5 separate regions of the Homo sapiens genome follow, and all the other regions are linked to region 3. The links come from fine-mapping of genetic effects on gene expression. A gene starts in region 3. Each other region holds a variant in brackets. All regions are shown on one strand. Distances are between the middles of the regions.

Region 1 (6,603 bases), 72 kb after region 3:
CTTATACATGTTTTCTATGTTTGTAGCATCTGGGCCCCTGGCCAATTAGACCTGTAGGTCTTCCTGTAGCTTTTTTGTTGTTTATTTGCCTGGGATTGAAGTTGTTTTAGGGACATAGCTAGCATCTCTCCTGTGTAAACAAAATTACGTGAATTTTCTTCTCCCTTGCATCTTGTTGAGTTTATTACTTGTTTTCATGTTTTGGAAATGTTTTTCCTAATTTGTGAGTTCAGAATGCTTTCTTCTGGATGGTGGCTAGGTCTCTGAAGGACAAGTAGTGAGTGCTATTTTTTGGACCTCAGTTCTAATATAAATGTACCAAGGAAAGATTCACCTTACTGACAGGTCGGGCGCGGTGGCTCACGCCTGTAATCCCAACACTTTAGGGGGCCGAGGCGGGTGGATCACCTGAGGTCAGGAGTTCGAGACCAGCCTGGCCAACATAGTGAAACCCCATATCTACTAAAAATACAAAAAGTTAGCCAGGCATGGTGGCAGGCACCTGTAATCCCAGCTACTCGGGAGGCTGAGGCAGGAGAATCACTTGAACCTGGGAGGCAGAGGTTGCAGTGAGCTGAAATCGCACCACTGTACTCCAGCCTGGGCGACAAGAGTGAAACTCTGTCTTTTTTTTTTTTTTTTTTTTTTTTTTTTTCAAAACAAGAAAGTTAATCTTTCAATCCAAAGGTAGTAGATCCTTTGGTAAAGTGAATAGAGCATCTACTAATTCTAAGATGTTCAGTTTCCCACCATGTTTAAATCGGAATGCATTAGTTTGTGGATCATGTAATGTACCTGAGTCTCTTCCCCGAAATTATTTTTATATAATGTCAGGCCTCTGAGCCCAAGCCAAGCTATCGCATCCCCTGTGACTTGCAGGTATATGCCCAGATGGCCTGAAGTAACTGAAGAATCACAAAAGAAGTGAATGTGCCCTGCCCCGCCTTAACTGATGACATTCCACCACAAAAGAAGTGTAAATGGCCGGTCCTTGCCTTAAGTGATGACATTACCTTGTGAAAGTCCTTTTCCTGACTCATCCGGGGTCAAAAAGCTCCCCCACTGAGCACCTTGCGACTCCCATTCCTGCCCACCAGAGAACGAACCCCCTTTGACTGTAATTTTCCTTTACCTGCCCAAATCTTATAAAACGGCCCCACCCTTATCTCCCTTTGCTGACTCTCTTTTCGGACTCAGCCCGCCTGCACCCAGGTGATTAAAAGCTTTTATTGCTCACACAAGCCTGTTTGGTGGTCCCTTCACACGGACGCGCATGAAATATAACATAATAGTGCTTTAGAATTAAAGAAGTTAACTTAATGACTACTATGGGTTAGGAACCGTGGTAAGCACTTCACAGGTGTTATCTGATGTAATTCTCAGGCAACTCCATGAAATGGGTGTCGGTATTGTTTCATTTTACAGATGGCACAACTGAGGCTCAGGGTGTGTATGTGTGTAGCTAGCTCAAGTTAGCAGTGGAGTTAGGAATGGAAGTCTTATGAGCTGTTTATTCTTACTTGATAGTTTGTGGCTTTGAGTTTGGTTGCTTTGAGGGTTGGAGGGAAACGCCTTGTTCTCAGGGGTCTGTATAGAAACAACATACAGCCTGCATGCGGTGGCTCACGCATGTAATCCCTGCACTTTGGGAGGCCGAGGCAGGCAGATCACCTGAGGTTAGGAGTTTGAAACCAGCCTGGCCAACATGACAAAACCCCATCTACTAAAAATACAAAAATTAGCTGGGCATAGTGGTGTATGCCTGTAATCCCAGCTACTTGGGAGGCTGAGACAGGAGAATCGCTTGAACCTGGGAGGCAGAGGTTGCAGTGAACCGAGATTGCGCCACTGCACTCCAGCCTGGGCAACAGAGCAAGACTGCATCAAAAAAAAGAAACAACATACAGTGTGTGAGCCTGGCTTAAGTGCCCTGTCCTTGGGTGCCCAGAGCCAGACTTAAGAGGTAACACCCTTAGCAGGCACATTCCTTTCACCCTGTGGTGTGGAATTTGTATGTGATGTATTTTTTCTTTTTCCAAAAATGGGGTGGACTTTGGAACAGCAAATATTTAATCGGAGCAAATTCCCCTTGCCAGAATCCTGCTAGCTTGTTCACCTTGGAGGTTCTTTGCCCAAAAATACTTACCACATACTGAAAACTAAATGTGCTAAGTCACCCACAGAGTATAAAGGAGGTCTTGATTAGGATTTGGAGCAGGGGGGTTGTTTACCTGTTTTTGATGAATATACAGTGTCAATGTACTCACCCTGTGATGAGCCTTAAAGGGCCCTGGCCGCATTCCAGATTCTGGAGTAAGCAAACAAGGGAGGGGATTTGTTGGGGATGGTGGCTCAGCCTGCTGCTGTTAGCATTCTCCTTGAAATGGATTTTGGAGGAAGAAAAAAGAGGTAGGGAGGCAGAGAAGGTCTAAAGGTGAAAGATGGGCTGGTATAGATGAAAGAGGTGCTAATGTGCATGTGTTATGGGGAAGATGTGGTTCAGGAATTAGAGTTGCTGATGGAGTAGAAGAGAGAAGGTGGGGAAGAAAATAATTTAGGGAATGTTTTAGAGCAATAAATCCTGTGTAAATGAAACAGCCTAATGAATGAAGTGGTATGGCTTCTCCATGAATGTAGCTTTTAGAGATTCAAAGCAATATTACCTCCTCGTTACTGGCACTACTCATACAGGTGTAACTTTTGTTTTGGGTTAGACTCTCTGAAACATTCATTTTTGTGTGTGTCCCCTACCATATTTCAGCACCTGAAAATTTTAACCATGCTGTTTCATCACTCATGTTTAAACACAGCTAAAAATTGAGGTTCCTCCAGAAAGCACCTGTGTGACTGACTTCTCATTACCCGCCTGCGGGTGCTTCCTTTCATGCGCGTCGGTGTGAAGAGACCACCAAACAGGCTTTGTGTGAGCAACATGGCTGTTTATTTCACCTGGGTGCAGGC[G/A]GGCTGAGTCCGAAAAGAGAGTCAGCGAAGGGAGATAGGGGTGGGGCCGTTTTATAGGATTTAGGAAGGTAATGGAAAATTACAGTCAAAGGGGGTTGTTCTCTGGTGGGCAGGGGCGGGGGTCACAAGGTGCTCAGTGGGGGAGCTTCTGAGCCAGGAGAAGGAAATTCACAGGGTTAATCACTCAGTTAAGGTGGGGCAGGAACAAATCACAATGGTGGAATGTCATCAGTTAAGGCAGAGCAGGGCCTTTTCACTTCTTTTGTGATTCTTCAGTTACTTCAGGCCATCTGGGCGTATACGTGCAAGTCACAGGGGATACGTGCAAGTCACAGGGGATGAGATGGCTTGGCTTAGGCTCAGAGGCCTGACACTTCCTGTATCCAGCCCCAATTGCTGTTCTAAAGCAATTTCCAGACCAGACTGTTCTCGCTGGGATACCCCTTGGTGATGCCCTAAGGTGTTAAAGAGCAAACTCCTGCTTTGTTCTTCACTTCTGCTGTCTGTCCTCTGCCCTCCACCCTCCCTCCACCCCAAACGGCAATGCCATAAAAAAAGAAGAAAACAAAACAGCTTTGTCTCATTCTTGTGCTTCATTCTTGTCATCTGTGCTCTCCTGCCAATTGTGAGCTCTACCTGCAGAATCTCTGGTTTCTCTGCCTGGGGTTACCTTCTTCACCTGTTCCCAGTGGCCTTCAAACTTGTCCCCTTGCCTCAAGTCTGTACCCTTTCACCACGTCTTCCACTTTGTAGCCAAAGGTGTTCTAGCTTCAGTAGTGCTTTTCCCCTTGCTTACAGGATGGGGGCCTGACTGCTAAGTCTGGCATGCACCTGGCCCTTCCCAGCAAGACCTTGCCTTTGTAGAGAAGGGAAAAATGGCTTCCTTCCACTCTTCTAGGTTCTTTCTCTGGAAGCAAATTAAATTGACATAAGACCAATTACAGGAGAAAAAGCAATTTTAAAAAGGGTCAGATAGGCTGGGCATGGTGGTTCACGCCTGTAATCCCAGAACTTTGGGAGGCTGAAGTGGGCGGATCATTTGAGGCCAGGAGTTCAAGACCAGCCTGGCCAACATGGTGAAACCCCATCTCTACTAAAAATACAAAAATTAGCCAGGCGTGGTGGCAGGCGCCTGTAATCCCAGCTACTCTGGAGGCTGAGGCAGGAGAATCACTTGAACCTGGGAGGCAGAGGTTGCAGTGAGGCGAGATTGCGCCACTGCACTCCAGCCTGGGCAACAGAGGTCTCAATTAAAAAAAAGCGGAGGGGGGGGGGGCGGTCAGATGATAGAAGCTTATGGCATGTTGAGCTACAGAGAGGAATAGGGGCTTGGGGCCTCTGGGAGTTGCTGGCAACACGTAATGGGAGAGTGAGGGGAAGAAATGTATGGTGAATAAACGTCTGATACACTTTACTAATGTAGATTTCCTCTACAGATGTAAATTTTTTGTATAAAACAGCAGCTTTGCAGAGCTACTCCTGTGTCTTCAGCTTCTCAGAATAACGAGCTTGAAATACGCAAAGAAGAATGTTTTAGGGTGGCATATCTTGGTTTTTGTGAGTGACGCCAAGGTCAGAGGTAACCAGGTCCACGAACATTTGTGTCTTTCCATAATGTTGGACTTAACTGATGCTATTTCAGTTACAAAAGCCACCAGCTATGTGGAGTTCCCAGGGAGCCAATTCTTCTTAGTACTTCTCATCCACTCATTAGATCTGCAGGCACACAGGTTCCAGCCTCTGCACCAGCCAGTCAGTATTGCAAACCGTACACAATCGTATACTCTGTCAATATATAAATGTTACTGATTAAACATTGTGCAACAAACAAAATAACATTTAACATTAAGAGAAAGGGAATAGGAAAAGGGTTAATGAAGTAGTCCAGGGAGAGCAATAAAGAAAAAAAGAATTTCCTGGTCTGGGCTGGTTAATCTGGTTGGTTGTGCAAGAAACAGTCTTTGATGTGGGCAGAGCCTTCGGGGCAGATGCCAGGTGCTTGTCACGAGTTAGAACCGTACCTACCCTTTTTATGGCCACAGAGTCCTCCAGTGAGGACTGATAGTTGAAGACTGTGCTTGTTTATCTACTTATCTGGTTGGATGCAGTCTTTATCAAGCAAAACATCTTGTCTCTGTTGTGACAAAATGGTGTAAAAAAAAAGTCATAAAAAATGTACAGTTTTAGGAATTTGCTGAAAACAAAATGTTGGCTATTTCCTCATGAAGTCTTTCACATGTCTTCATGAAAATGGAGCTGGCCAGGTACAGTGGCTGACACCTGTAATCCCAGCACTTTGGGAGGCTGAGGCAGGTGGATTGCTTGAGTCTAGGAGTTCGAGACCAGTTTGGTCAACATGGTGAAACACCAACTGTACACACACACACACACACACACACACACAAAATTAGCTGAGCTTGGTGGTGCATGCCTGTAGTCCTAGCTACTCAGGAAGCTGAGGTAGGAGGATGGCTTGAGCCCTGGAGGCGACGGTTGCAGTGAGCCAAGATTGCGCCACTGCACTCCAGCCTGGGTACAGAGTGAGACCCTGTCTCAAAAAGGAGTGGGGAGAAAATGGAACTCTTTGTTTGTTTGTGTAAAGGAAAATAAACCCTCTCAGGACTGCCCAAACTCTTTATGCCAAATGGAAACTTAAGACTGGAGAGACAGTCACGTGACACTGCTGCTGTCCCCTCGCACCTTGCCCCCCTGCCCAGTAGATAGCTGCGACTTCCCAACCTTGTGTCAAAGCGCTATGCATTAGCCACACCCCTGGAGAAGGCAGAAGGCCTCGTGCATCCCGGATGACTGCCCTCAAATTGCTCATAAGTAAATTCTCTGCTGGTCCCTAAACCTTTCAAGATGTGTATCTTCCCATAAAAAAGGACATGTCAGCTGTAACTTTAGGTCTGCAATCTAAGTCTAGCTCCCTGTCCACGGAATTGCAGTCTGTTACATTTCACACTGACAATGCCCATTACAAGCTTATCTTCCCAGGTGCAGAACAAAGACAGGACAGCAGTCATTTCTCTGCCTACCCTGAGACTACATAATTAACTCTTCCTTTACTCCCTTTTTGAATGTTTATCATATCTCTTTTATAGCGGAGTTTACTGGGCACTAGTTAAAATCTCAGGAGAATGTTGCATTTGCCTCACCACCTGCCCCCTTTTCCTGCATGCCTTCTCCCCTTTAAAGAAATGGGTAAATACCGAGCAACCTCTTTGGGAGCGCCAGCCACAGAGGATTCTGTGATTTGTGTGTTTCTCAGCAGCCCCTCAAGCTCTGGCTTAATTATTCCCCATTGAGACTCTTGCCTCAGTCTCTCATTTGGGTTGACATTTGTTTATGGAAATCGTGATAGCCACAGATATTATTGTTTCTTCAGTATCTTTTTCTGGAGAAGAAACTGTAAATTATCTTCTTTATCACACTTTCCTTTTACCTTCAGTTTTGTGCTATTTTTTCTCTGTGATACTTTATTTTTCTTATGAATAATAGTTATAATGTGATTTATTTTCTGTTCAGAAGAGTGTTCAACTTTGATGTTGATAAGAAGCAAGTTTTTATGACTGACCAAATCCTTATTTTATGACATTACTAGGAATGTGCTGCTTGTTCTCATTGTGTAAGATTTTAATT
Region 2 (6,063 bases), 62 kb after region 3:
GACATATGTTTTCATTTCTCTTGGGTTTATATCTAGAAGCAGAATTGCTGGATTGTGTAGTAATTTTAAGCTCTTGAGGAACCGCCATATTATTTTCCAAAGTTGCTACATCATTTTCCATTCCCACCAGTAATGTGGGATATTCAGGATGAAGTCATGTATTAAGGTTCACATTTCTCCACACCCTCACCAACACTTAATGGTACATCTTTTTTTTATTTTAGTCGCTATAGTGTGTGTGAGGTGGTCATCTCCTCTTTGCCTGTGCCTCTAACACTGCCCTCTGCCCTTCCCGTTCGCTTGCTTTCCCCTGGGGCAGCTTGTTCATTTCTGGCTTTGATCATCCCCATATGTGCATCTGCTTGTAAAAACACCCTTCACTCAGGACAGTGCTGAGGACACTGGTAGATTCTTTCTTCCTGCATCCCCGTTTTTCTAGATCTTGTGCATACTTTTCCCCAGACAGGTCATAAAAGTCTCAGGCTTCCACTCTGCATTCCAGTCAGTCACGGTGATTTGGCCATGCCACCCTCCCTGGTGTTGCATATTACACTTACCTTGTTTGAACTTGAGTAGTTCCCAGATGTTCCCAGCTGCCCTCAGACTTCTTTCTCCAGATAACTTAGCCCGTTAGTTAGGCTGAGCTGAAGGTGCTGTTTGCTACATTTCTCCCAGATGATACCCTATTTCTAAATTCTGGGGTCACCACAGTGTAGTGACTGTAGGTGAATACAGTGGCTACTTTACTTAAAAACAACTTGGATTTCCAAAGGCTATTCATAAGCACATCTTTTAGTCTGTTTACAGTGACATGTTAAAATACTTCTGTGGTTCTTGGAGTTGACAGAGTTCTTTGATCCGTTATGTTTGAAACTCTGAAACTGGGGAGATGAGCTACTTTATTTCCTATTTTTAAACTGAAGAATTAAAATAAATATGAAGCCATAATATTAAATATTCCTTGTGGGAAGCCCTTCTTGTACTGGTTCCAGGGATCCAAAAATGCCTGAAACAAGGCCCCTTAAAGGAGCGAGTTAAAGAGATGAGTGGAAAAAGGCTGCAGCTCGTATGTATAGCAAGTGTTCTGCCTTGAGAAGAGACAGCAAATACGTGTGGTGTTAAGTGTTCTACAGAGAAAACAATGATCTTTTTAGGATATAATTTATTTTTAAAATTTGTATAAATTTATGGGGGTACAAGTGTAATTTTGTTACATTGATATATTGCTTAGGATATAATTTGAATACATTGTTAGAATTTTTTTTTTTTTTTTGCGACAGAGTTTCACTCTTGTTGCCCAGGCTGGAGTGCAATGGCATGATCTTGGCTCACCACAACCTCTGCCTCCCAGGTTCAAGGGATTCTCCTGCCTCAGCCTCCCGAGTAGCTGGGATTACAGGCATGCACCATCACACTCGGCTAATTTTGTATTTTTAGTAGAGAAAGGGTTTCTCAATGTTGGTCAGGCTGGTCTCGAACTCCTGACCTCAGGTGATCCACCTGCCTCCGCCTCCCAAAGTGCTGGGATTACAGGTGTGAGCCACCACACCTGGCCCATTGTTAAGAATTTTTAAAAGCAGAAAAGTCCTAAGTGGTCATCTTAACAAACCTGTCGTTTGACAGGTGAGGAGCTGTGGCCCAGGAAGTGAAGTGGCTTGTCAGAACTGAGACACCAGGTATATCTGGGATTAGAACCCAGGGCTGCTGGTCGCCTGGCCAGTGCATCTCCTGTTTGTGCAACTAGGTTTGCTTGTTGGTCAGATATTCACAGAAGTCACAGTTAAATGCCTTTTATCAAGCATATCCTTCCTCCGCTTTCTAGACTTTCTTCTGGGCCCAGTGGTAAGAAGTATTACTTTTGGAAATAGCGCTGCCTGGGGCCCTCAGCAGCGATCTTAGCTTAGTTACATTTCCCATCTGCCTGCTTCCTGTTGTGATGACCAAAAGCTGAGCTCAAGGGATGACTGTTATTCTGAAGTAGAAAACAGAGGTAGCCACAAAACTAGTATTTATTTATTCAGTGGCTTTACATGTAAAATAGAACTTGTTTTCAGGTTGTGTTTGGTATAACCATCTTTTTAAAACAAACATCATCAGTGAAAAATATTCCGCTTTGATCCAAAATACTGTGCAGTTTGTCCCAATGTAAAATGACAGGTCTTCATGCTGAAGCTGGAGAGTCTGGCTCTTGATTTTCCTTTGATATTTACTGGTTGAATGTTCAGAGCACACTGTACCTGAGACCTGCATCAGGGGCTGGCATAGGCACATTGAAGCCTCAAGTAGAACTCTCTCCATTCTCCGCTTATATGCTTTTGTGTCAGAACAAGTGTCAAATTAACAATAACAAGAAAATATTGCTGACCCAGTTCTTTGATTCTGGAATGCTTTTTTAAAATCCAGCTGAGATGGAGTGCTTTTCAAAAGTTCTCTTTCTGCGTAGCAACTGAGTTCATGGTACTGTTGTACCTTATGTGTCAAGTTATCAAGGAGGAAGTTTTTGAGATTAAAAGTGGGTTGGGACCATCGAACCTCAAGCCCATTGTAGAACTGAGGGAAAATTCTCACCATGACCTTTTAGAATTTTCCTCTGGGGAGCTGGCTTTGAGGTTTTGCCTCTTAAATCCTCTGAGTTCCCTCCCCTCCAAGTTAGGATGACTCTGGAGACATATGTTTCCAAACGGTTTTATCTTTTGGTCTAAATTTCATCCGGAGATAACATGTGAGAGAAAGCAAGGAGTCCCTGTACCCTCCTATGCCTCAGCTGTCATTGCTGGGCCTTATCCTTCCCCATACAAGTGGATGTCGGGAAGTAGTGGTGGGAAATCGTTTTGTACTGGAGGCAGCAATTTGAACTAATGGATAT[T/C]CTGCTGAGAGTCTTTTTTTGAGCCTGAACCAAGGACAAAGAGGTTTGATCCTGGTCCAGTAATAATGAGCTTGCCAGGAGGCAGGAAATTGGAAACAATACATACTGTCCTTGGTCTGTGAGGATCCATTACCTGCACGTTTGCGGGAGCACCAGGTGTCAGCTGGATCTCTTTTAGGATTGGTCTGGCTATGGACGAGAGAGAATGATAAGATGTGAGAATGAAAGTTTTCCTAACACGTTTTTTTCTGTAGTCATCTAAAGCGTCTGTTAAGCAACTGTCCACAGACAGGGCCTCGGAGTAGCCTGCAGATAAATAGAACAGACAAAAGCTTTGGAAATGAGCATTGTCAGCCATCATAAACATGGGGCTGGAGAGAACAGAGAAATGGCACAACGAAGAATGGAAGAAAAAGTAGCCTCAGAGCGATGGGAACAGGAAACAATGCATAGATATTGTGAATGGCTGAATCTTGATACTTACTCTGCATAGAAATTTAATAGGATGATTCTGTGACTTGATTAAACTGTAATCCGAGCTCATTCTTCAAAAGTTTAAAAAATTGCCTAGCTGTCATTCTTTCAGATGCAAGTGGCGAGCACTCTGAAAGGTGCTGGGGATTTCAGAGACACTGAGTAACACACAGTTATTGTCCCCATAGAGCTGGCCCTCAGGTAGGGGAAAAGAGAGCAGTTTGGCAAGTGTGTCTGGAAGGAGCCTGTGATGCTAGACTGTGTATGTCTGAAAGCTAAAAATATGTGAACTCCATTAGTGAATATTGGACAGTGGTGTTGGCTCAGATGTGACTCGGCTGACCTTCGGAGTCACGTGGTAACTCAGGAATGCTCTCTCCCCATTCTAGAGACAGAGCTGAGGTGCCTGGGAGGTTTATAAAATGGAATGAAGTGTTTTTGCCTCCTCATCAGGGCTGAGCATAATCATAAGGGGTTGGGTATTCTGGTGGTGTGGTTTTAAAATTTCAGCGAGACAGTCTCTGCAGTCTTCAAATAGATCTAAAATTATCTTTCGACATGCTGGCTTTCATCAGTGTGGGGTTTATTTTTGGTTCCATGGGGTGTGTTTGTGTGACAGATGTGAGGACGTTTTCTGTTCGAGCTATTGATGGCTTCTGAGCCGCAGAGATGAGCGCTGGAAGCTCATAGACACATTCTCTCTCCATTCCTTCCCACCCCATCTGAAAAACTTTCTGTGGGTGGATAAATTAAGGTACTTTATTTTCTGCTAAAAAAAAAAAAATGACATATGGGAGATACACAGTTTGATTCACTTAAGGCCCAAGTTCCATTTGAGGACAGCCCTGAGGAAGGGAAGAGTCTCATGGGAGAAGGCAGGAGCGGAGGGTTGGGACAGCTGGACCGCAGCCCAAAGGAGCTGCTCTTTTGGCTCTTGATTTGTAGAGTAAGTTATCACCAGTTGTCACTTGCTTTTGAAATGTGCATTTGTACTTAGGCAGTTAACAGTTAGCCACAACTCCTCATCTATTCTTCCTAGTAGCGCAGGGGTGGGGCAGACTTTTCTTACAAAGAGCCAGCTAGTACACACTGGAGGCCCTGTGGTCTCTGTAGCAGCTCTCGCCTTTGTAGTGCAAAAGCAGCCAAAACAATATGCCAGCCAATGGCATGGCCAGCCAACCAGTGTGGCTATGTTCCAATAAAACTAGGAGGCTAGCTGGATTTGACCCACTGGCTGTCGTTGGCTGACTCCTGTGTTAGACCCTCCATGGTCTTATATGCGTTATGTGCAGTTATTCTCCCATCTCTCTCAAAAGGGAAACGTCAGTGACCTGAACATTGTGCTCAGAGTACCAGAGTTCTTGCTTAAGTTGCAGGTAACTGACTAGGCTGTATGAACCACATAGTGGGTAGACTAGGTAAGAATAATGTGGCAATAAATTAGTATGACATGTTTAATAGTAATTATGTCTATATGGCATTTTGGAATAAATGGCAAATTGTTTACAAGTTAAAAAAAAAAAAGTCTTTTTTTTTTTCTTTCTTTTTTTTTTTTTAGAGACAGGGCCTTGCCCTGTTGCCCAGGCTGGAATGTGGTGGCACGATCATGGCTCACTGCAGGCTTAACCTCTGGGGCTCAAGTGATTCCCTGCTTCAGCCTGCTGAGTAACCGGGACCATAGATGTGCACCACGATGCCTGGCTAATTTTTCTTTTTTTTTTTTCTTTTTTTTTTTTTTTTGTAGAGATGGAGTCTCCCTATGTTGCCCAGGCTGGTCTCAAACTCCTAGGCTCAAAGCAACGATCCTCCTGCCTCAGCCTTCCAAAGTGCTGGGATTATAGGTGTAAGCCACTGTGCCCAGCCAGTCATCTTTTTATATATTCTGTCAAAGGACGAAATTACAAATTTAGTTGGAAAGTTGAATTGGATTTTATTTGTGATTCTAGAATGTGAAGTAGAACGACTGTTCCAGTTAGCTGAGCAGAGGAGGGTGTCTTTATAGGCAGAAAAGGCTTGAAAAAAAGCAGAAACAGAACAAAAGGTTAAAACAGAGGATTTCCTTATTAGGCAGACTCACATTGACTAGAATCTTTCAGTGGTTTTTTTTTTTGGTTTTTGTTTTTAAAGAAAACTGGCCCCCAAATTCAGTGGCACTTAGTACAAGTGGCTTCATTTTGGTTCGGTCTGGTCTGCTGGGGCCTAGTGCAGGAGTCAAAAACAATGGCCTCTCCTAAACTTTAACAATCCAAACCAAGCATTTGGTGATCCAGGAAGAAGTGGGGTTGGAGAAAATGAGGGTCTGGGCACCCTAGTTCCCCAGCTGCTGGGCACCATCATTCAATTCCAGGTCTGATATAAGAAAGATGCTGGGGCCGGAAACTTAAATGTCTGCCATGTACTGGTTCCCATCACTAGAACTGGGGAACAGGTAATGGGGCTCTCAAATCTTGAGGTTATAGGTTTGGTGTAGAGTCCTATCTTTTGGGGAACATTAGGTCCTAATGTCCTGCCTAAGGCAAACATCATGACTAGTCCGAATTAACCATGAAAATACTTCAAATATCCATCAAGTAGAGCATAGTTTTGTGCATACAGCATTTCACTAGTAGAACGTTAGCTCTTTTTAGCATGAACTTTTAAACTGTTTTATTCACAGCTCGTATCCCCCTAGTTTAGAGCAATACCTGCACATAGTAGTTGGGAATGAGTGCGTGGATGCTCAA
Region 3 (6,272 bases):
TTTTTTTTTTTTTGAGACGGTATCTTGCTCTGTCGCCCAGGCTGGAGTGCTGTGGCACAATCTCGGCTAACTGCAACTTCCGCCTCCTGGGTTCAAGCGATTCTCCTGCCTCAGCTTCTGAGTAACTGGGATTACAGGTGCGCACCACCTCGCCCGGCTACTTCTTTTGTATTTTTAGTAGAGATGGGGTTGCACCATGTTGGTCAGGCTGGTCTCAAACTCCTGACCTCGTGATCCGCCCACCTCGGCCTCCCAAAGTGCTGGGATTACAGGCATGAGCCACCACGCCTGGCCGACATAAGACAGATTAACAGAAGAAAAACCGTTTTAATTACCTGCATACGCAGCAGCACAGGAATCTCACAAAACATGAAGGGCCAGATGATTGAAGCTTATAGCATTCTGAGCTAGAAATAAATAAGGGCTTGGGGCTTCTGTGGGGACAGTGGGGAGGCACCACAGGTAGGATATAGGAGGGTTAGTGGAGGAAATGTATGGTAAATAATGTTGCCTTGTGGCTGCGCGCGGTGGCTCACACCTGTAATCCCAGCACTTTGGGAGGCCGAGGTGGGCGGATCACGAGGTCAGGAGTTCGAGACCAGCCTGACCAACATGGTGAAACCCCGTCTCTACTAAAAATACAAAAATTACCCGGGCGCGGTGGCGCGCGCCTGTAATCCCGGCTACTTCAGAGGCTGAGGCCGGAGAATCGCTTGAACCCGGGGGGCGGAGGTTGCAGTGAGCCGGGATCATGCCAATGCACTCCAGCCTGGGCGACTGAGCGAGACTCTGCCTCAAAAAAAAAAAAAAAAAAAAAAAAAAAAGTTGCCTTGTTATGTAAAGTCTCTCATGTAATAAAAGTTCTCTGAGCAGCTGCCTTCCTGACACAGATACTTTTACTATGTGGACTTCCTTTATAGATGTAAATTTGCTTTACAAAAGGACAGCTTTTCAGAGCTACTCCCGTGTCTGCAGTTTCTCAGAATAACCAGCTTGAAATGTGCCAAACAAGTGTATTTTGGGATAGCATATTTTGGTATTCTACAGTCATAATTTGGGGTGCTGTGGCCTGAGCCTCAGCAGCAAAAAGAGGACATGATTCAGGGTTCGGAGCGCTGGATTCTATTACCAGCTCTGCCCCCTAACCCAGTGGTCTCTTGTGAAAGGTCCTCGAGTTCCGAGTCGAGTCAATTTCCCTAAAAGGCAAAGAGGCATCGGAGTTCCAGCTGGCTTAAACATTTGTAGATTTCGCGCCTTCCCTTTTCGCCCCTCCTTCCTCTCCACCCGTCTCCCCACCCCGAGCTACTAGGGGGCCTGCCCATTTCCCCAGGCCAGGAGTAGGGCTGAAGTGAAGTGACCGCGGTCGTAGCCAACAGCGAAGCTCATTAGAAAGTCCTGGTGAGAGCCTCAGCTTCTGATGAGTCACAGATCGCCACGGAGCAGGTTGCTGCGCTTGACTGATTGGGTTTACCCTATTTTTGTTTTGAGTTAGAGCCAACTGTCCTCATTCCTTTTCGTGGCTCTGAGTAGGGCCTGCTCCATTATATCTCTTTCTCTAAACGCCTGCATCTGAGATGCTGGAAAATCCTGCGCAGCTCATAACCCAAGGCCTGGTTTCCATTCACCTTTCCTCTTCTACTCCTAAGCTGCCCAAGACACTCCTTTGCCAGAGCTCTGTCTGGAAACGAGTCCCTCTAAGGTCAAGCCTTGCGTCATGTGCCAGGGGATCAGACGAGTGGATTCCAGGCCCAGTTTTACTTCCTCAACTTTGCTGTGAGGCTTTGGGCAAGTTATTTAACCTCTCTGGGCTTCAGTTGCCTCACCGCTAAAATGGGTACGGTAATGCTTATTTGAAAGAGCAAAGGGATTGGCGCAAAAATCGCACTAACAGAAATATCTTCATTCCGGCAGGGCGCGGTGGCTCACGCCTGTAATCCCAGCACTTTGGGAGGCCGAGGCGGGCGGATCACCTGAGGTCAGGAGTTCGAGACCAGCCTGGCCAAGATGGTGAAACCCCGTCTCTACTAAAAATACAAAAAATTAGCCGGGCGTGGTGGCAGGCGCCTGTAATCCCAGCTACTCGGGAGGCAGAGGTTGCAGTGAGCCGAGATCGCGTCACTGCACTCCAGCCTGGGCGACAGAGTGAAGCTCCGTCTCAGAGAAAAAAAAGAAAAAAAAAAAAGAAATACCTTCATTCCTCTTGGGGAGGTGGCTGTGAGGACAGCAGATCTGAGTGGGAGAAAACCTAGAGACGGCCTCCCTGCCTTCTGTATGGAACAAGCAATTATTGGGCACCCTCTTTTTAGTGAGGAAGCAGGGACGGAAAATGAGTCCTTGGGCCAGCGCAGGAGGAGAGGCTGGAAAACATATCAATATTCAGGAAGGCACGGAAAGGGCTCTCAATGGATCTCTCACCAAGTGCCATCAGGGCAGAACAGTCAAGGGCCCAGGGATTCGAGGAAGCTTGGGAGGCGCGGAGAGCCCAAAAGTTGAAAGTTTTCTTGGCAGATGAGGGAAGGAAAGGGATTTCAGGAACAAGGATCTCGTGGGTGGGCTGTCCCAGTCGGCGCGCGGCAGAGCGCAGACCAGCACCCGGCGGTCTGGTCTGTGCAGGAAAGGCAGGAACCGCTTACTAAGGCTCCAACCTTTTAGAGGCAGCAACAAGCTCTTTCTCTGGATCCGAAGGCGGAGAGGCGCTGCGCTCTCATTTGGCGAGGGCCCGAGCGCGGCCAGACCGCGCACCAGACCCGGAGCGTGGGGCCCAAAGGCTGGCGGCCGACTCCGGAGCTCGGCGCCCCAACCGGGAAGTGATCGCAGCAGCCCACCCGCCTGACGCCAGCGGAAGTGCGAGCCCGGGTCGAGCCTGCTCCGCCGCCGGGCGCCCGGGAAGGGGCGGGCACGGGGCGGGGCTGGGGGCGGGCGAGGCGGGGCCGGCGGCGGGGCGGGGCTTGGCCGCAGTTGTTTTTACCCAGGCCTCGGCGCCTAGGCGCTTCGCCGAGGCTGATCTTCGTTCAAGTGTGAGCTGCGGCTGAGCCCAGCGCTCGAGGCGCGAGGCAGCCAGGAGGGCCCGTGCGGCGCGGGGAGCCAGCGAGCGCGCCTTCGGCATTGGCCGCCGCGATGTCAGCTCAGTGCTGTGCGGGCCAGGTGAGCGAGGCCGGGCGCAGCGCGGGGGTTGTCAGATCGGAGAACCGGGCCAGGAGTCCAGGCGTGGAGGACCTGCCTGGGTGCGCTCCCAGCTCCGCGGCCGAACGTAGGGCCCGGGTGGGTCGCTCGGGCTGGCCCCGCGGCGCTCAGCCGTCCGGGAAATCCTGTGCCCTGGGCGGGCGGGAAGGGGCAGGGGGAAGCCCGAGAGGCTACCCCGGGGTCTTCCCGTCCGGCCTCCGGGACTCCGCGTGGAGCGGGGCGTGCCGGGCTCGGGCGGAGGATCCCGACTGCTCCAGGGGCGTGTCGCCTCTTGCGCCGAGCACTGGTGAATAGCGCTGAGCTCCGTAGCCCTCTCCACTCTGCTTGTCGGATGAATCCAGGAAGAAAAGTGGGTTTAGGCACCGTCTCCTTTGCTATGCCCTGAATAAAACTCGGGTCAAACAACCCAGGCAGGTTGCGCTTGGCATCTCGTAGTCGAGCGTGGGCTCTGTACCTTTGAGAATGTCTCGAAGCCTGACTTCCAAACTACCGGGCGCAGGTCTGGGCGAAGGGAAAACTCAGCCCTGCTTCCTGAATTTCCCGACCCAACCCTGGCTCGGTACTAGCACGACTGCCTGGGTAGGGCTGGAACCTTCCTGCCTCTCTTTGCAAATAAACTTGTTCGAACCTGTTTTTTAACTCTCGCCTATTTAAACCTATGATGTCTTAAAACATTATGTCTCCTACCAGTTACTGCATCAGTGTAGAATTAGTACGTCTTAGCCCTGTAATGCTGGTTTCACTCCTTCCTGCAGAGTTAGAAAAAACGAAGTAGGTGAGTCTCTTGGATGTGGAGCTCTTTTCTCCCTTTACATGTGGATTATCAGCGTTTCGGTACAGAGTTTTAATGGAGTGTTTTCACGAACGAATCAGACTCTAGGGAGCATCCTGGTTCGGGGTGTTCTTGCTGACACTCAGCCTTTCCACAATCGAGGCCAGCTGTAAGTGATGGAGTGGTTAAACTGTGGGTTTCTGTAACCGGCGATTATACTGGCAGATAATCTGTCCTGTTTAGAGTGGCCACGTGGAGCTGTCTTGGTTTTTGAGGTCTAATACTGTGCTTGGCATACATTAAAGCTGGCCTTTTCAGAGTTGAGGAAATTGAGGCTTTTGACGACTGAGACGAAATGATTTTTTTTCCCTGTGTCAGGCAGAGAGAGAAAGAGAATGAGAATGGTCACCACCTTACCAGGTATTTGAGAACAAGGTGGACCAGGAAAGACTGTTTTCAGAAAGCTCTGCAAATCTTTTATTCCCGTTTTGAAATACTTTTTCTCCAATATGATGCGACACTTTTTATTACGTAGTAATGATACAGCTCTTTAGGGGCATCTGTCCTGGTCCCTTGAAGTCCCCTTGAGGCTCTTTCTGCCATTCCCAAGTTCCTAATTTAGAGCTCTGTAATTACCAGTATTCAAATGGGTTTTGTAAAAGAATTATTTTGCTGTTGATGTTTTAGCAGGTTTCTAAAGTCTCCCCTCTTAGGACTTTGGAAAGAACCAAATCAAAGTTAACCCCTGCTTTCCCAGGCCTGCTGGAGGCATCACTGTGGTGGGCCTCAGTGCTGTGTGATGGTGATCACACTGTGATTTCCTGTGGATGGGGCGGTAGGAAGTTAAAAGAAAAGCAAACAGGCTGGGCGCAGTGGCTCATGCCTGTAATCCCAGCACTTTGGGAGGCAGAGGCGGGCGGATCACCTGAGATCAGGAGTTGGAGACCAGCCTGACCAACGTGGAGAAACCTCATCTCTACTAAAAACACAAAATTGCCGGGTGTGATGACGCATGCCTGTAATCCCAGCTACACAGCTAAGGCAGGAGAATCGCTTGAACCCAGAGGCAGAGGTTGTGGTGAGCTGAGATCACGCCATTGCACTCAAGCCTGGGCAATGAGCAAAAAGAGCAAAACTCCATCTCAAAAGAAAGGAAAGCAAACAAAACCTCACAGCACCGTCAGAAGTTACCAATTCTTGTTTGTTTCTGTGGGCACCTGCCTTTTGCCAGGAGCCTGCTATATAGTCATAAGTCAGACAAGCATCTCTGCTCTCAATGGCCTATCTGGGCAGGGGAGATCATTCATAAACATGTAAACAATGAAACAATGAATATGGTACTGGTACTGTCAGAAGGCCGTGTGGTAAGCAGCCTTGAGGAGGGTTGCCGAGGGAGTCTGAGAAGATGCCTGTGGAGTTGAGACTGCTCAGTGAGGAGAGGCAAGGGAGTCTAGGGTGGCTGGGGTGTCTTAGATGAGGTCAGAGAGAAGAGCAGGACCAGAAATGGCCAGAACCTGTCAGCTGCCTTTGGACTTTGGATTTAATTCTGGTTGCAGTGAGAGGCTGTGGGAGGATTCTGAGCAGGGGCGAGCTGTGGTTTGATTTGCACTTAGAAGATAATTGGGATGTCGTGAAGACTGGACTGTAACGGGCTAGAGTGGAGGTGAGGAAAGCAGTTCGAGTTGGTCATGAAGCAGTTGGTGAGGAAAACCTAAGTGGATATTTGCCTCTTAGGGGCAAGCAGTGTTCTAGGCTTCGGCAGTGAACAAAAATCCTTTCCTGATGGAGCTCGAATCCTGGCAATCTGCTGTTGCTGTAGTCCCAGGAGGAGACAGCGTGGTACCTTAATTTAGGCTATGGCTGTAGGAGTGAGTACAGTGGGACATCATTGGCTTTGGGTATATTTCAGAGGTAGAACTGGATTTGAGCAAGGATTAGAAGTGGGATGTGGGAATGAGACAGGCTCGGTTTCTGGCCTGAGCCACTGGGTAGATGATGATCGCATTACTGAGGTGAAGTAGGAAATTGTTAGGAAGAGGACATTTGGTGAGGAAAACCCAAGTTTCTTGGCTTCGTTACATTAGAGATGCCTATTATAAATTTAATGGAAATGGCAAGTCACCAATTAGGTATTTAGGTCGGGAGAAGTTTGAGGTCGGAGAGAGACATTTTGGTGACTTTCTTTAACTGCGGACCATCCTGAACAATATGTAACCCATAAAAGAGCCTGGGCTTTGGACTCAGGCCTGGGTTTCAATTTGGAAATCTGGACAATGAGGACTGGTGTGACTGGATGAGTTACTTACCCTCTATGACC
Region 4 (6,603 bases), 100 kb after region 3:
GGTATGCACCTGTAATCCCACCTACTCCGGAGGCTGAGGCTGGAGAATTGCTTGAACCCAGGAGGGGGAGGTTGCAGTGAGCTGAGATCACGCCATTGCACTCCAGCCTGGGTAACGAGAGAAACTGTATTTCAAAAAAAAAAAAAAAAAAGAAAAAAAAAACCCTTTAAATAAAGTAGAGTTTGGATTTGCCATAAACCCTTCAATGGAAAAGATGGCAAAAATTCTTCTTAGCCTGCTGCATAATGGTTACCACACATAGGGCATTTCACAACATGGAATTTTCACCCTATCATATTTTCTCACTATTTCTAGCAGGTGTAAAGAATTCTTCTGAGTTGGCCCTTGAGTGAGAGATGATAAATAAAATGTTGTTTCTTACAGGACTGAGGTACCATAGTGGAGATTGGTAAGGGCTGGTCTGATATTCCCAAAAGATGTCAATTTTCAAAGTTGATAGCTACTAAAAAAAAAATCTGTCTAAATACCAGCAACAAACATTGTTATTGAATTCGTAAACCACAAAACTGCAGTGTATGGTGGGATGAGAACATATAAAACTGCAGCCCCTACAAAGTGGAGATGAGGATGACCACTCTGCTCTGTAGCGTACTTCTGTAATCTGTAGGCAAGAGCACACTCTGTGGGCTGGGCCCCCTAGGAGTTAGTTCCCCCGGGGTCCATGTGATTGATGTTTGCTGTAATTACTCACTGCAGCTCTTCGAGGGGTCAGCTTTAAGAACACTAAATTCAGGCTTTGTAGGGCCTGGGAATAAAAGGAATGCTGTAGGGGTGGGAGTTAGCCCAACTAGGGTTTTTTCAGATCTGGACTTCTGAAGAGTTTGTTTTCCTTCCTGACTCAGAGGAATGAAAGGTTGGAGGATGTTACAAAAAGGCCACATCGTCCGTGTGGGAACTGTCATTTGAACATAATTGCAGGAATATCTAGGATTCTTGATAGAAATTGCAGGAAGCCAGAGACTATAGATAGTATGTAAGTTAAAAGGAGAAGAAGGCCAAGATTGCCTGGGGTCCACTCTTGTAAAGTTGTAGAAGACTGGAAATCTCCCTAGCTCCTCTCTTTCCCTTCGCCCTCCAGAGCCCCCAAGCCCCACCCCCAAATACTTGTTTCCTTTGGGGTATCTCCATCCTGACTCTTGCAGCTGGGGTACTCTCTAGGAGTATGTTTTAATGTTTGTAGCCTCAGCTCAGAAGAAGGGCTCAACCCAAACCTACTCCCTGCCTTTCTGCCTGGGGCTGCCTTCTCTCCAGAGCCTCCTTCCATTGCACCCAGGAATCATTGCTGTGAAAGAACATCATAGCTTGGACCCCATGTAAGCCCTAACCTTGGTCCACTTGTGGGAGTTCTCTGATAGCTCTTTTTATTTTTTTAGATAAAAAAAAATGTTTTAAGGCAAGTTCTCACTATGTTACCCAGGCTGGGTAAACTGTCCTTAAGGGATCCTCCTGCCTCAGCCTCCCAAGTAGCTGGGACTACAGGCATAACCATGACACCTGGCATTCTGATGGTTTTCTCTCTCTCTCTCTCCTTCTTTCTTCCTTTTTTTTTTTGAGACGGAGTTTTGCTCTTTCACCCAGGCTGGAGTGCAATGGCAGGATCTCAGCTCACTGCAACCTCCGCCTCCCAGGTTCAAGCGATTCTCCTGCCTCAGCCTCCTGAGGAGCTGGGATTATAGGCGCGTGCCACCACGCCACCATGCCCGGCTAATTTTTGTATTTTTAGTAGAGACGGGGTTTCACCATGTTGGTCAGGCTGGTCTCGAACTCCCAACCTCAGGTGATCCGCCCGCCTTGGCCTCCCAAAGTGCTGGGATTACAGGCGTGAGCCGCCATGGCCAGCCCTGATGGCTCTTTCTATAGGCGCATCCCTCCACACCCCTTTAGTCTGGAGCTTTGCTGTGACAAATCCTGGCCTCCACGAACTATTTCTTAATTCTTCCCTTGGTCTCTGGATTTTGATTGAAATTGTTATTCTGTTGCCTTCAACTTCAGACTGTCAGCCTGGACAGGATCCCAGAGTTGATCAGGTCAGTCTCCTCATTGTACATGTAAGGAAGCATGGAGCCTATACCTGTAGCTCTCTACTCCCAACTTCGGGCAACCTTTCCTTGAGGCTCCTTTTCGGGAGTATTTAGGGACACTGGTGGATAGTCTCTCCCCGGCTCTTTTTCTTCAGATGGCTTGGTGTAATGTCCCCTGAGGGAGAAAGATAAACTGGATGACTTGCGTAATTATATTATTACAAGGCATTTGCACTATAAAGTTTCCTGACCATTCCACTTTTATCTGTGTTTAAGAGAAAAAATAATTCTTAATATTGAACCATCTTTGAAAATATCCTTTTAAATATAAAACTGGAAAAAGTAAGAATCTTTATTCAATGTCAAACAACTTCCTAGTTTGAAGTGGGGAGGTTCGCAGGTTGGTGTGATAGCATTGCCGAGGGGATTGTTCTACATTAAAAAAAGTTGGGAAATCAAGGAAGAATATTTATTTTTTTGGTACATTCTGGGCCTTTATGGGGGGGTGGGGAAATTTGTATCTTCCCCACCAGGAGAGGGGGAGATTTGTGTCTTCATTTTGGGAATTCTGCTCTGGCCTGCCTGCCAGCTAGAAATCTCCAAGTTAGAAATCTTCCACCCCGTGGCCAGGCGTGATGGCTCACGCCTGTAATCCCAGCACCTTGGGAGGGCAAGGCGGGTGGATCGTCTGAGGTCAGGAGTTCAAGACCAGCCTGACCAAAATGGAGAAACCCCATCTGTACTAAAAATACAAAATTAGCCGGGCATGGTGGTGCATGCCTGTAACCCCAGCTACTCGGGAGGCTGAGACAGGAGAATCGTTTGAACCCAGAAGACAGAGGTTGTGGTGAGCCGACATCGAGCCATTGCACTACAGCCTGGGCAAAAAGAGTGAAACTCCATCTCCAGAAAAAAAAAGGAAAGAAAGAAAAAGAAATCTTCCACCCCATGCCCCAGGTTCACAGAGAGCTCAGGTCTCCTTTGGGTTCTATAGCACAGGGGAGCATGACTGATCTTCATCATTGCACAAAGGCTGGGAATAGTCACGGGATCTGTCAAGGGCCTACCCTGTACGTTTGTCAGGGAGGCGGAATGTGTGATCTCCAGGAAAGTTTGGACGTGTTATTTAGAGATTTTCTGTGGTCTAGTGGACTTTGGCCAGCTTCAAAAGCATCTGCAGTGCCAGTGTTGAGGGGCACCTGCATTGTGCATTCTTCTGCCAGTGTGAAGGGGTTCTGGGCACTGTAGTGGTTCTGCAGGGAAACAGGACACGGCTTTTCTTTTTTTTTTTTTTGGCTGTCACCATGACTGCAGAGCACTGCTGGCATTTTGGCTGGGTTGGGGTGGGGTGGCAGCAGGCAGAGACAGTAAACACGCTGTGGTGTGTTAGGCATTCTCCGTACAATAAAGCATTGTCTTAACCCAATGCTGTAAGTCTCCTCCTATCCCCACGGGAAATACTGGGTTAAAGTCACACCTATCTTAGCACAGGAAGAGGTAAGGCTTATAGGTAACCCAGGAATTGTTTTATAGCAATTTGTGCTGTGCTCACCAAACAGTGGTCTTTGTAATAGCCTGAATGCAGATAATAAGAATTTCCTAGGCTTTAAGAGCTTATAAAAAAAAAACCTTTTCTTGATAATTCCAAGAAGAGTGTTGTATGGAGAAAGGCTACAACTGAATAAAGATCTTTTTTTTTTTCCTGCAACATCTGCCTCCCGGGTTCAAGCAATTCTCTTGCCTCAGTCTCCC[G/A]AGTAGCTGGGATTACAGGCGCCCCCCACCATGCCCGGCTAATTTTTATATTTTTAGTAGAGACAGGGTCTCACCATGTTGGCTAGGCTGGTCTCGAATTCCTGACCTCAGGTGATCTGCCCGCTTCAGCCTCCCAAAGTGTTGGGATTACAGATGTGAGCCACCACGCCCGGCAACTGAATAAAGATCTTAATGTAGGGTAACATCTACCTGTAGAAGTCACATGGCATTAATGATGCTCTGAATGTAGTTCTTTTTAAAAGTAAAATCAAAAGCTTCCCCATGTTAGGCCTCTTTGATGGTGAAGTGGCAAAGGAGCCCAAATCAAGAGCTTTGTTTTCCGGAAATTACGTTAACCCAAAGAATTTATAGAGTAGAATATTTACTCTGAGGCTTTGTTTTTCTTTTTGAGACAGAGTCTCACTTTCTCGCCCAGGCTAGAGTACAGTAGCGTGATCTCAGCTCACTGCAACCTCTGCCTCCTGAGTGTCAAGCAATTTTCCTGCCTCAGCCCCCTGAGCAGCTGGGATTACAGCTGCCGGCCACCACACCTGGCTAATTTTTGTATTTTTACTATAGATGGGGTTTTGCCATGTTGGCCAGGCTGGTCTGGAACTCCTGACCTCAAGGGATCCACCCGCCTTGGCCTCCCAAAGTGCTGGGATTACAGGCGTGAACCACTGCACCTGGCCTATTCTGAGCCTCATAAATAATGAATGTTAACCTTTCAAATGAAAATTTCAGATAGTGATCTCTTCTTAAAATTAAAAACTTATCTTTTCCCCTGTGAAAACTATACACTGTACTAAATCAAAACTTGTATGCACAGGATATGTGCCACTCTTTTTTTTTTTTTTTTGAGACAGGGTCCTTCTGTCACTCAGGCTGAAGTGCACTGGTGTGATCATGCTCACTACAACCTCCCAGGCTCAATTTATTCTCCTGCTTCAGCCTCCCCAGTAGCTGGGACTGCAGACATGTGCCACCACACCTGGCTAATTTTTGTATTTTTTGTAGCGACAGGGTTTTGCCAAGTTGTCCAAGCTGGTCTCGAACTCCTGGGCTCAAGCGATCTACCTGCCACAGCCTCCCAAAGTGCTGAGATTACAGGTGTGAGCCACCACACCCAGCCGGGCCACTCTTAAATGTCGGATTAGGTGTTGTGTTCCTTGGGTGCGCAGTCATTGGGAGATGTTTCTGTCTTCCTCTGACCAGGCACACAGTCAGGAGGTGGAGTGGCATGGGCCTGGATTAGCATGCATCAGTTCAAAGCAGAAATGAAAGTGATGCTGTTGTACTTGAGTGGACCACAAAAGAAACAGTGAACTTGGATCTCAGTGGGCTTCTGTATGAGAAAGCTTTTTATTGTTTATCTCTGTCTCATTGATCTCTCTCCTTGGGAAAGAGGATGAGACTGCGCAGTGTTGCCTCATGGGGTTCGCTGGATTGAGATGAGTGTGTGTCCCCACCTTTCCATGAGCAGACCAGCTTCTTGAGCACCAACACGCCCGCCCATGTCAGGCCAGCACAGAAGCTACATGACGGCAGGATTGTTGCCTGTGTCACTGAGTCCCCAGTGCTTAGAATCGGGCCTGACACATAGTGGCCTTCAGTAAATATTTGCTAAATCAATCTGTAAAGTTAGCTGGAACCCTAAGTATTGTATATATTTGCTTAAAATGTTCTGTGTTTTTGTTTTGTAGAGATGAGGTCTTGCTATGTTGCTCAGGCTCTTCTCAAACTCCTGGCCTCAAGTGATCCTTCCACCCCTTCCTCTCAGAGTATTACAGGCATGAGCCACCACTTCTGGCCTGTTTTTGTTTTCAGGAAAAATAAATTATTTTGCCCCATGCAAGGCAATTTGTCTAACATTTTACCTTTCTAGGTCTCAGGGAAGTGGCAGAATTTTTTATTACCTCGACTGCTACTCTTCCAAACAGCAAGCCTTGTTCTACTATAGGCTATCACAGTAAATAACTGCGACTTTTGCTTTCATGCCCTTGCTTTCTGTTGCCATCTCTGGGCTCGTTGCTTTTGATTCCCTCTAAGCAAGACTAGTCAAAGGGAGGGAAAGATAAACTGAAATTAGAAAACTATTGTAGCATTTGAGGGAGGAGAGGCAAAAAGCAATACTGAAAACCAAGATATCTTACTTCTCTACCTACAACCTTCTTTGCATAAAATGATCTAATGCAATCCATGTAAAATGATATCAACTATAGAATAAGCCAGCCAATTTTGGAATAAGGAGAGGTATTAAAATAGATTGCTTTGATTTAAGTCTCCTGAACGGTAGGTTACATTGAGGCTCTCGTCGGAGCACTGGCCAGCCGGCTTTCCCCTTCATTCCATGTGTTGTAATGTGTTAATATGCCCAGCTGACGTTTTTGTCTGTTTCTTAGTTTGACATCAACAACAAGATCGAGTTCTGACGCTCTGCAGGGGCGATACGCAGCTCCTGAATTGGAGGTAAGTTCATTTCCTTTTCCTGTCCTGCTTCATCTCAGAAGATCCATTTCTCAGGAGGGCCTTTTGTGTTTGTGTCTTTATCAGTCTGCATTCCGTGATCCTGTTTTTCTGCTGAGGAAAGATTTTTGTATAGAAAAATAAATGCTGGCCGGGTGTGGTGGCTCACGCCTGTAATCCCAGCACTTTGGGAGTCCGAGGCGGGTGGATCACCTGAGGTCAGGAGTTCAAGACCAGCCTGGCCAACATGGTGAAACCCCATCTCTACTAAAAATACAAAAATTAGCCAGGCATGGTTGCTCACACCTGTAGTCCCAGCTACTTGGGAGGCTGAGACGCGAGA
Region 5 (6,603 bases), 110 kb after region 3:
TTCATTACAAAAATTGGAAACATCTTTTTTTAAAATACAAACTAAATGTGGAATTATGAAAAGTAACAATGTGGTACCCCCCCGCCTCTACTTCCCCCACACAGATAACCACTGCTAGGATGTGTATCCTTCTCCTTTTCTGTGCATTTATAAACCTCTGTAGTTTTTTTTTGTTTTTAGTTGGAGTCTTGCTTTGTCACCCAGGCTGGAGTGCAGTGGCGCAATCTCGGCTCACTGCAACCTCCGCCCCTGGGTTCAAGTGATTCTCCTGCCTCAGCCTTTTGAGTAGCTGGGATTACAGGTGCTGCCACCACACTGGCTAATTTTTTTTTTTATTATTTTTAGTAGAGACGGAGTTTCACCATATTGGCTAGGCTGGTCTCGAACTCCTGACCTTGTGATCCACCTGCCTCAGCCTCCCAAAGTGCTGAGATTATAGGCATGATCCACCATGTCCAGCTAATTTTTTTTTTAACATAAATGTCATTATACATGTTTTCCCCTGGAGGCTTTTTTTTTTTTAACTTGGCAGTACATGATTGACCTGGCCTTCCCTGGCACTACACAGAGGTTCATACTTTTTCTACAGGTCCACAGCTTTGGTTGTATCATAATTTTTTTGACCACTAAGTTAAGCTTAGACATGTAGGCTCATTGTGCTTCCTTTTATCATTCATTCAACAGATGTGCAAGTGGCTCCTATGTGCCACACGGTTCTATGAGGCAGGATTTATAGTCCAGCAGGAGAGACAGACTATGACGCAAGTCAAATATGGTGTGTTAGATGGTGATGAGTATTGGGGAGAAAAATAAAATTAGGAGAGGGAATTGGGGTAGGGGTGGTGGGAGTGGTGGTTTCAAGCACAGTGATTGGAGAGATTCTTCCTGAAGGAGGAGAGGAGAAGGGAGCTTTAATGCTTCCCAGTGATGCTTTGGGAACTCCTGGGAATTTTTGGCTTGGAAAGCTTAAGAAAAGATGGAGAAGGCTATAATTAAAAAGGCAGATAATAACAAATGTCGAGGAAGTGGAGAAATTGGAACCCTCTTACATTGCTGGTTTGAATGTGAAATCTGCTTTGGAAAAGAGTTTGGCATCTCCTTAAACAATTAAACATTGAGTTACAATGTAATCCAGCTCTTCCACTACTCCTGAGCGTATACCTAAGACAAAAAGAAAACTAGGTCCACAAAACTTACACAGCGGTGTTCATACAAGCATCATTGGTGATAATCAAAAAGGGGAAACATCCCAAATGACCATCAGCTGGTGACTGCCTAAACAAAATGTGCTCTATCCATACAATAAGATACTATTTAGCAGTAAAAAGGAATGAAGGACTGACACATGCTGCCGCGTGGCTGAGCCTTGGAAATTGTATGCCAGGCAAAAAAGCCACACACAAGAGACCATGTGATTCCTTTTATATCAACTGTCCAGAATAGGCAAATTCATAGAGGCAGAAAGTAGATTGGTGAATGCGGGGGGTGGGCTGAGGGGGCCATGGGGAAGGGGAGAGCACCTAAGGGGTGCATGATTTCTTTTGGGGGTGATGAGAATGTTTGGAAATGGGTAGTGTTGATGGTAGCACAAGTCTGTGTATGAATACATTGAAAGCCGTTGAATTATACATTATAAATGGATGTGAATTAGTGAATTGTATCTCAATATATTCCTGCTTTGACCGCGGCTAGGTGTCTTGTTTCCACAGCTACGAAAGTGCCAACATCGAGAGCTTCTTCAGCGGGAGCTGGTCCATCTTCTGGGTCAAGATGGCCTCCTGCTGGATATGCGTGCTGTTGTACCTGTGTACGCTGGTCGCTCCCCTCTGCTGCCCCACCCGGGAGTTCTCTGTGTGATGATATCGGCGGTCCCCTGGGCTTTGTGGGCCTACAGCCTGGAAAGTGCCATCTTTTGAACAGTGTCCCCGGGGCAGGGACTGGCGCCCTGTGCCTGAGTGGGTCTGAAAAAGCTTTGAGAGAGAAAAAAAAAAATCTCCTGATTAGCTTTTTACTTTTGAAATTCAAAAAGAAACTACCAGTTTGTCCCAAAGGAATTGAAATTTTCAACCAAACTGATCATGGTTGAAATATCTTACCCCTAGGAACTGGATACCAGTTATGTTGACTTCCTTCTGCATGTTTTTGCCAAAACAGAATTTGGGGCACAGCATCTTTTCACAGGGATAAAAATATCTTGTGGGGCCAGTCATTCTCATCCTCGGAATAGAAAAACATGCCAAAATCTTGAGTCCCCAGCGCCTAACAGAATCCAGACCCCTCTCACTCACTTCCGCCTCTTAGAGCCTTGTCCCCAGGGGGCTTTGAGGACAGGACTCAGCCTGCAGGGCCCCTGGTATTTATAGGGTCCAAGAGGAGGCACCTGCTTTTCAACTGCACCCTCAGTGCTGCCTCTTCACGGCCCCTAAACGTTTCCCTTTGAGGTTGTGATGCTGGGAATCACAGACTTCACTCTCTGCCTGCACCCTTCCCCGAGGTCTCATCTTTTCTGGGTCCCACATCTTTGTAATAATGTGAAAAAGCACAATTTGTCTGATCACCCCCCAGGTGGTTCCCCACCTTATTATCACTACCTGATCCGAGTTACTGCAATAAGTACGGCGCTTATTTATGGTGTTA[T/G]TCACATGATTATAGAACAAGATTCATGTTTTCTCTGCCTAAGCAATGGAGGGCTATCATTCTTACTTGTTTGTGCTGTTGATAATGATAATACTTTTAGGACCTTAACTGAAAAGCTGCTTCGTGTTGAAGCCTGCTGCATGCACTGCTCTTTCAGTTGTTGAGGTCAGCCCCTCAGTTTTTTCTCCACCTTGAGGCCTTTGAAACTGTAAAAGCGGAAGTCGTTTTGTGTTCTGGATCTGTAACGTGACCATACCGTTCAGGTTCATGCTGGCATCCTTGGAGTAGGTTTGCTAATGTGAGAATTTCTGAGGTGAGGATCTCAGACACACTGACCAGAAGAAGCTTGTTAGGCAATGTGTGGAAGTGGCCGAATATACTTAAAAAGAGGTGCGCAGAGGCAGGCGGATCACTTGAGGTCAGGAGTTGCAAGACCAGCCTGGCTAACATGGTGAAACCCTGTCTCTATTAAAAATAGAAAAATTAGCCGGGCATGGTAGCGTGTGCCTGTAATGCCAGCTACTCGAAGGCTGAGGCATGAGAATCACTTGAACCCGGGAGGCGGAGGTTGCAGTGAGCCGAGATCACGCTGCACAGGAATTTCCAAAATACGTACTTGCAAAGTAATACAGAAACGTGACTTTCGGCAGCTACCCAAGATGATGCCTATTTTCAGTGTTGATGTATTCAGGCAGGGAAAAGGTTTACTTGGTGGAAACTCCTGTTAGAATTTCATTCGGGGTGGAAAGAATCTTCTCGAGCTCTCTGTAAGTGAGGATCTAAGAATAAAAGGCTCAGCCTAGTCATTTTTTTCTGTGCCCTACTGTATGAGTTGGGCAGAATTGAGTGCCACCTAAGCTGGGCTTCTGTGTGCCAAAATGCTGGTGGGTGAAATTAGTGAAATTCTTTCTATTCATTCCTTTGCCCTTCTCCCAAGAAAACCCATGGGGAAACAAATTACAGGGGATGAATTCCTTTAGAACTTTCCCTACTTAGAGTGTTTGAGATTCAGTTTCAAAAGGCACTCCATCTGTGTGTGTGGTTTAGAGAGCCTTGTTTTGTAAATTCCATTAAATTTCCTTTTTTAGGGCAGGAGCTCTGTACTCAGCAGTTAAAAGATTCATCTGGAGTCGCAAAATGAAAAGCCGTGTTCTAACCTGAGGAATCAGTTAGGGGACAGGAGTTCCGTGGGCCAGGAATGGGCTCAGGGAGTGGGGCTGCGTGTCACACACAGTAGCTGTGTTGCAGTGGCCTAGGGCCTTGGGGGTTGTCTTTAGGAAACACCCTGAGGGGAAGCAGGTAAAGAGCCTGGGCAGTATTGTGACTAGTTTCATTGTTTTCCTCCTGCTGAGGTCTAGCAGAGCCCTTGCTTTGTCCTCTCGGCTGGGTCTGGCTGCCAGCTGGTGTGATTTGAGAAACTGACCTTACGCGCAGTCAAGGTCCAGCTGACAAGGCCTTGTATTCCTTGGCTGGCCGTGATTGGCCCTTTCCTCTGCAGAAAGCAGCTTAGGGAAGCCCAAGCAAGGGAGTGTGGCCGGTAGAAGGCCCTCGTCGCTTCCTTCTGGAGCCAGCCCAGCCACACAACGTTTTCCAGATGCGTGAGTCTGGTTTGTGACATCCCGTTCCCTTCTGCCGGTTGGTCTGATGCAAGAGGAAGAGTTACAGTTGCTCTGAATTTTATTCTCAGCTGAAAATGTTAGCACGTGTATCTGGATGAACAAAACAGATGTGGATGTATCTGAGGATTGAGGGACTATCAATGCAGAGTTAATGTTAATGGTTATTAATTGTGATATACAATACTCAGGTGAGGAGTCAACATTCCTGGATTTAAAGAATCTACAGTTTTGTGCAATTGTGATTTGAGAAACTGGAAACATTGTGCCAATGGCTTTGAGTTCCTATAACAACGGTGTTAATTTGATTAACTCACTGATATCTTTTAAAAATAATAGACATTTGCTTCCTACACCTTTTTGTACATGACCTAAAGAGTATATTCCCAGAAGCTGCTGGTCAGACACATTTAGGGATGACAGTTGAAGAGGACTTTTTTAAAGCTGCATGTGAATATTTCCTCTGTGTGATTTGTCTGATGTAGAAAAGTTTTCCCCTCATTTTTATGAGTAAAAACACTAAGTGGGTGGCAGGGGGGTGGGGGTTCTTATGGGAGTGTCATACCGCGGCATGTTACCTGACTGGAGACTAGAGACTATTTCCATTATAAGCCTTCAGAAACCCAACCACGTCTTTACTGTGTCTAGCTTTTTAAATACTGATTGGTTAGTTTTATTTTTGCCCACAGTTTCTTGGGCAAAAAGGTTCTTCATTTTGTCTGAAAAAGAAATTATTTGCCAGAGGTATTTGGAGCCTCTTTGAAGGGGAGATAGAGTGGGGGTGGGTTGTGGGGAGGGTGGAGTTATTGGGGTTTTGGGGTTCTGTTTCCATACAACATTGTTTATTTCCGATTCCTCAGAAGATCCTTTATTATGAATAACCTCAGTGTAATGTTAATTTCCTGTCCCCATGTCAAAATTGTCACCCTAAGCCTTTTTTTTTTTTTTTTTTTTTTTTTTTGGAGACGGGCTCACTCTGTCAGCCACGCTGGAGTGCAGTGACATGATCTTGACTCATGGCAGGCTTGACCTCCTGGGCTCAAGGACCACCTCCCAAGTAGCTGAGACCACAGGTTTGCCCCATCACACCTGGCCGATTTTTATTTTTTTGTAGAGATGGGGTTGTCCAGGCTGGTCTCAAACTCCTGAGCTCAAGCAATGTGCCCGCCTTGGCTTCCCAAAGTGCTGGGATTATAGGCGTAAACCACTGCACGCAGCCTACCCTCTGCCTTTTTAAGATGATGTATTTATTTAATTTTTGCCATCATTGGTGCTTCACCTTCCTGCGAAGGAAATTCCAGAGCCTGTATTTAAGCTACCTAGGCTTTTACACTCCCTTTATTGCCTTTCCAAATAGTATCTCATTTGGTGTACTCTAGTGTCCTATACCTCTTGGAAACGAAAGAGGGCCCAACCTACAACTAAGAAGGGACAAACCTTGAACTAAGTAAGACCTTACACACCCAGAAAGAACACTGGGCCCTCCTTCTTCAGGGACAATGCAGTAGCCACTTGGCTTGTGGAATTTACTGAAGGCTATTTCCTGTAACTTGCTAGTTAACTTAGTTTTGTATTTCAGGCAGAGGTGCGCTCTGTAATGTTGGGCCTTTGACTTCACAGTACTGGAGAGCTGTTCACACAGATGTTTAGACCTTTCTCTCTCTCTCTCTTTTCTTCTTTCTCAACAACTCTTTCACAGAGGCAGTCATTTTGAAAGGTTGAAATATTTGGCCTTTACCAAAGAGCTTTTTTTTTCCTTAAGCAAAATCCTTTCAGAAAGAAACAAATGGGGAAGGGCAGATTAAGAATGCATATGTCCCAATCCACTTCTATAGGAGTTTAATCATATTCACATGAGTAAAATGATGGAAGAACTCTTTAAGGTAATCCTTTGGGATAAAGGATCCTGGGAAGTTCTCTCAGGTAAAGAAAGCTTACAGCAGATTTGTAATATATGTCTGGAGAGCTATTTATAAGAAATTTAAGAGGATTGTTTTGTTTTCCTTTATTAAAGATTTAAGCCTTTTTACTTTGCAAAAAGAAAACTACAAAAGTTTTATAGATATAACTTTGCTAATTTTTTAAACTTTTCTGAAACGATTAGCTGTAGCCAAATTATGTGGTTACGTTTTGCTACATTAGAATTTGAAAATGCAATATGTGTGGTAAATCTACTGTTTGAAATTTATAATGGTCTCTGATATGATTCGAATTTTGGTAACTTTTGAAAGTTATTTTCCCCCTTTAGTCATGGATTTCTATTTGTTTTTTAATGTTAATTTTTCTAGAAAGCATCTGAATTGACTAGGCTTTTCCTATATAAAAAACTCAAAACTTGTTAACTCTGTAC

The links. PIP is the estimated chance that this variant, and not a neighbour inherited with it, causes the effect.
Region 1: its variant is the best candidate, but not a certain one, in a credible set for the expression of SERINC5 in T cells (TOPMed, PIP 0.54).
Region 2: its variant is the best candidate, but not a certain one, in a credible set for the expression of SERINC5 in prefrontal cortex (ROSMAP, PIP 0.82).
Region 4: its variant is the best candidate, but not a certain one, in a credible set for the expression of SERINC5 in whole blood (TOPMed, PIP 0.89).
Region 5: its variant is the best candidate, but not a certain one, in a credible set for the expression of SERINC5 in sun-exposed skin (GTEx, PIP 0.50).

What each region holds. Positions count from the first base shown.
Region 1 is chr5:80,180,179-80,186,781 of GRCh38, reverse strand. All of the region lies in intron 2 of SERINC5 (serine incorporator 5), which reads left to right. Among named protein-coding and RNA genes, the nearest start is that of SERINC5, 73 kb to the left of the region's middle. RefSeq lists enhancers at 363-1,184, 2,829-3,649 and silencers at 2,161-2,455, 2,721-3,015. The variant G/A (reference allele first, on the strand shown) is at 2,962.
Region 2 is chr5:80,190,497-80,196,559 of GRCh38, reverse strand. All of the region lies in intron 2 of SERINC5 (serine incorporator 5), which reads left to right. Among named protein-coding and RNA genes, the nearest start is that of SERINC5, 63 kb to the left of the region's middle. RefSeq lists enhancers at 2,510-3,080, 3,653-4,223, 4,224-4,795. The variant T/C (reference allele first, on the strand shown) is at 2,867.
Region 3 is chr5:80,252,768-80,259,039 of GRCh38, reverse strand. It overlaps SERINC5 (serine incorporator 5), which reads left to right and starts at 2,992. Exons shown (of 12, transcript NM_001174072.3): 1 at 2,992-3,144. The coding sequence starts at 3,118. RefSeq lists enhancers at 27-958, 959-1,892, 1,893-2,826 and silencers at 2,680-3,119, 3,230-3,509.
Region 4 is chr5:80,150,542-80,157,144 of GRCh38, reverse strand. It overlaps SERINC5 (serine incorporator 5), which reads left to right. Exons shown (of 12, transcript NM_001174072.3): 9 at 6,197-6,263. Among named protein-coding and RNA genes, the nearest start is that of THBS4-AS1, 70 kb to the right of the region's middle. RefSeq lists an enhancer at 4,672-5,171. The variant G/A (reference allele first, on the strand shown) is at 3,795.
Region 5 is chr5:80,138,917-80,145,519 of GRCh38, reverse strand. It overlaps SERINC5 (serine incorporator 5), which reads left to right. Exons shown (of 12, transcript NM_001174072.3): 12 at 1,710-6,603. The coding sequence ends at 1,857. Among named protein-coding and RNA genes, the nearest start is that of THBS4-AS1, 59 kb to the right of the region's middle. RefSeq lists an enhancer at 1-20. The variant T/G (reference allele first, on the strand shown) is at 2,638.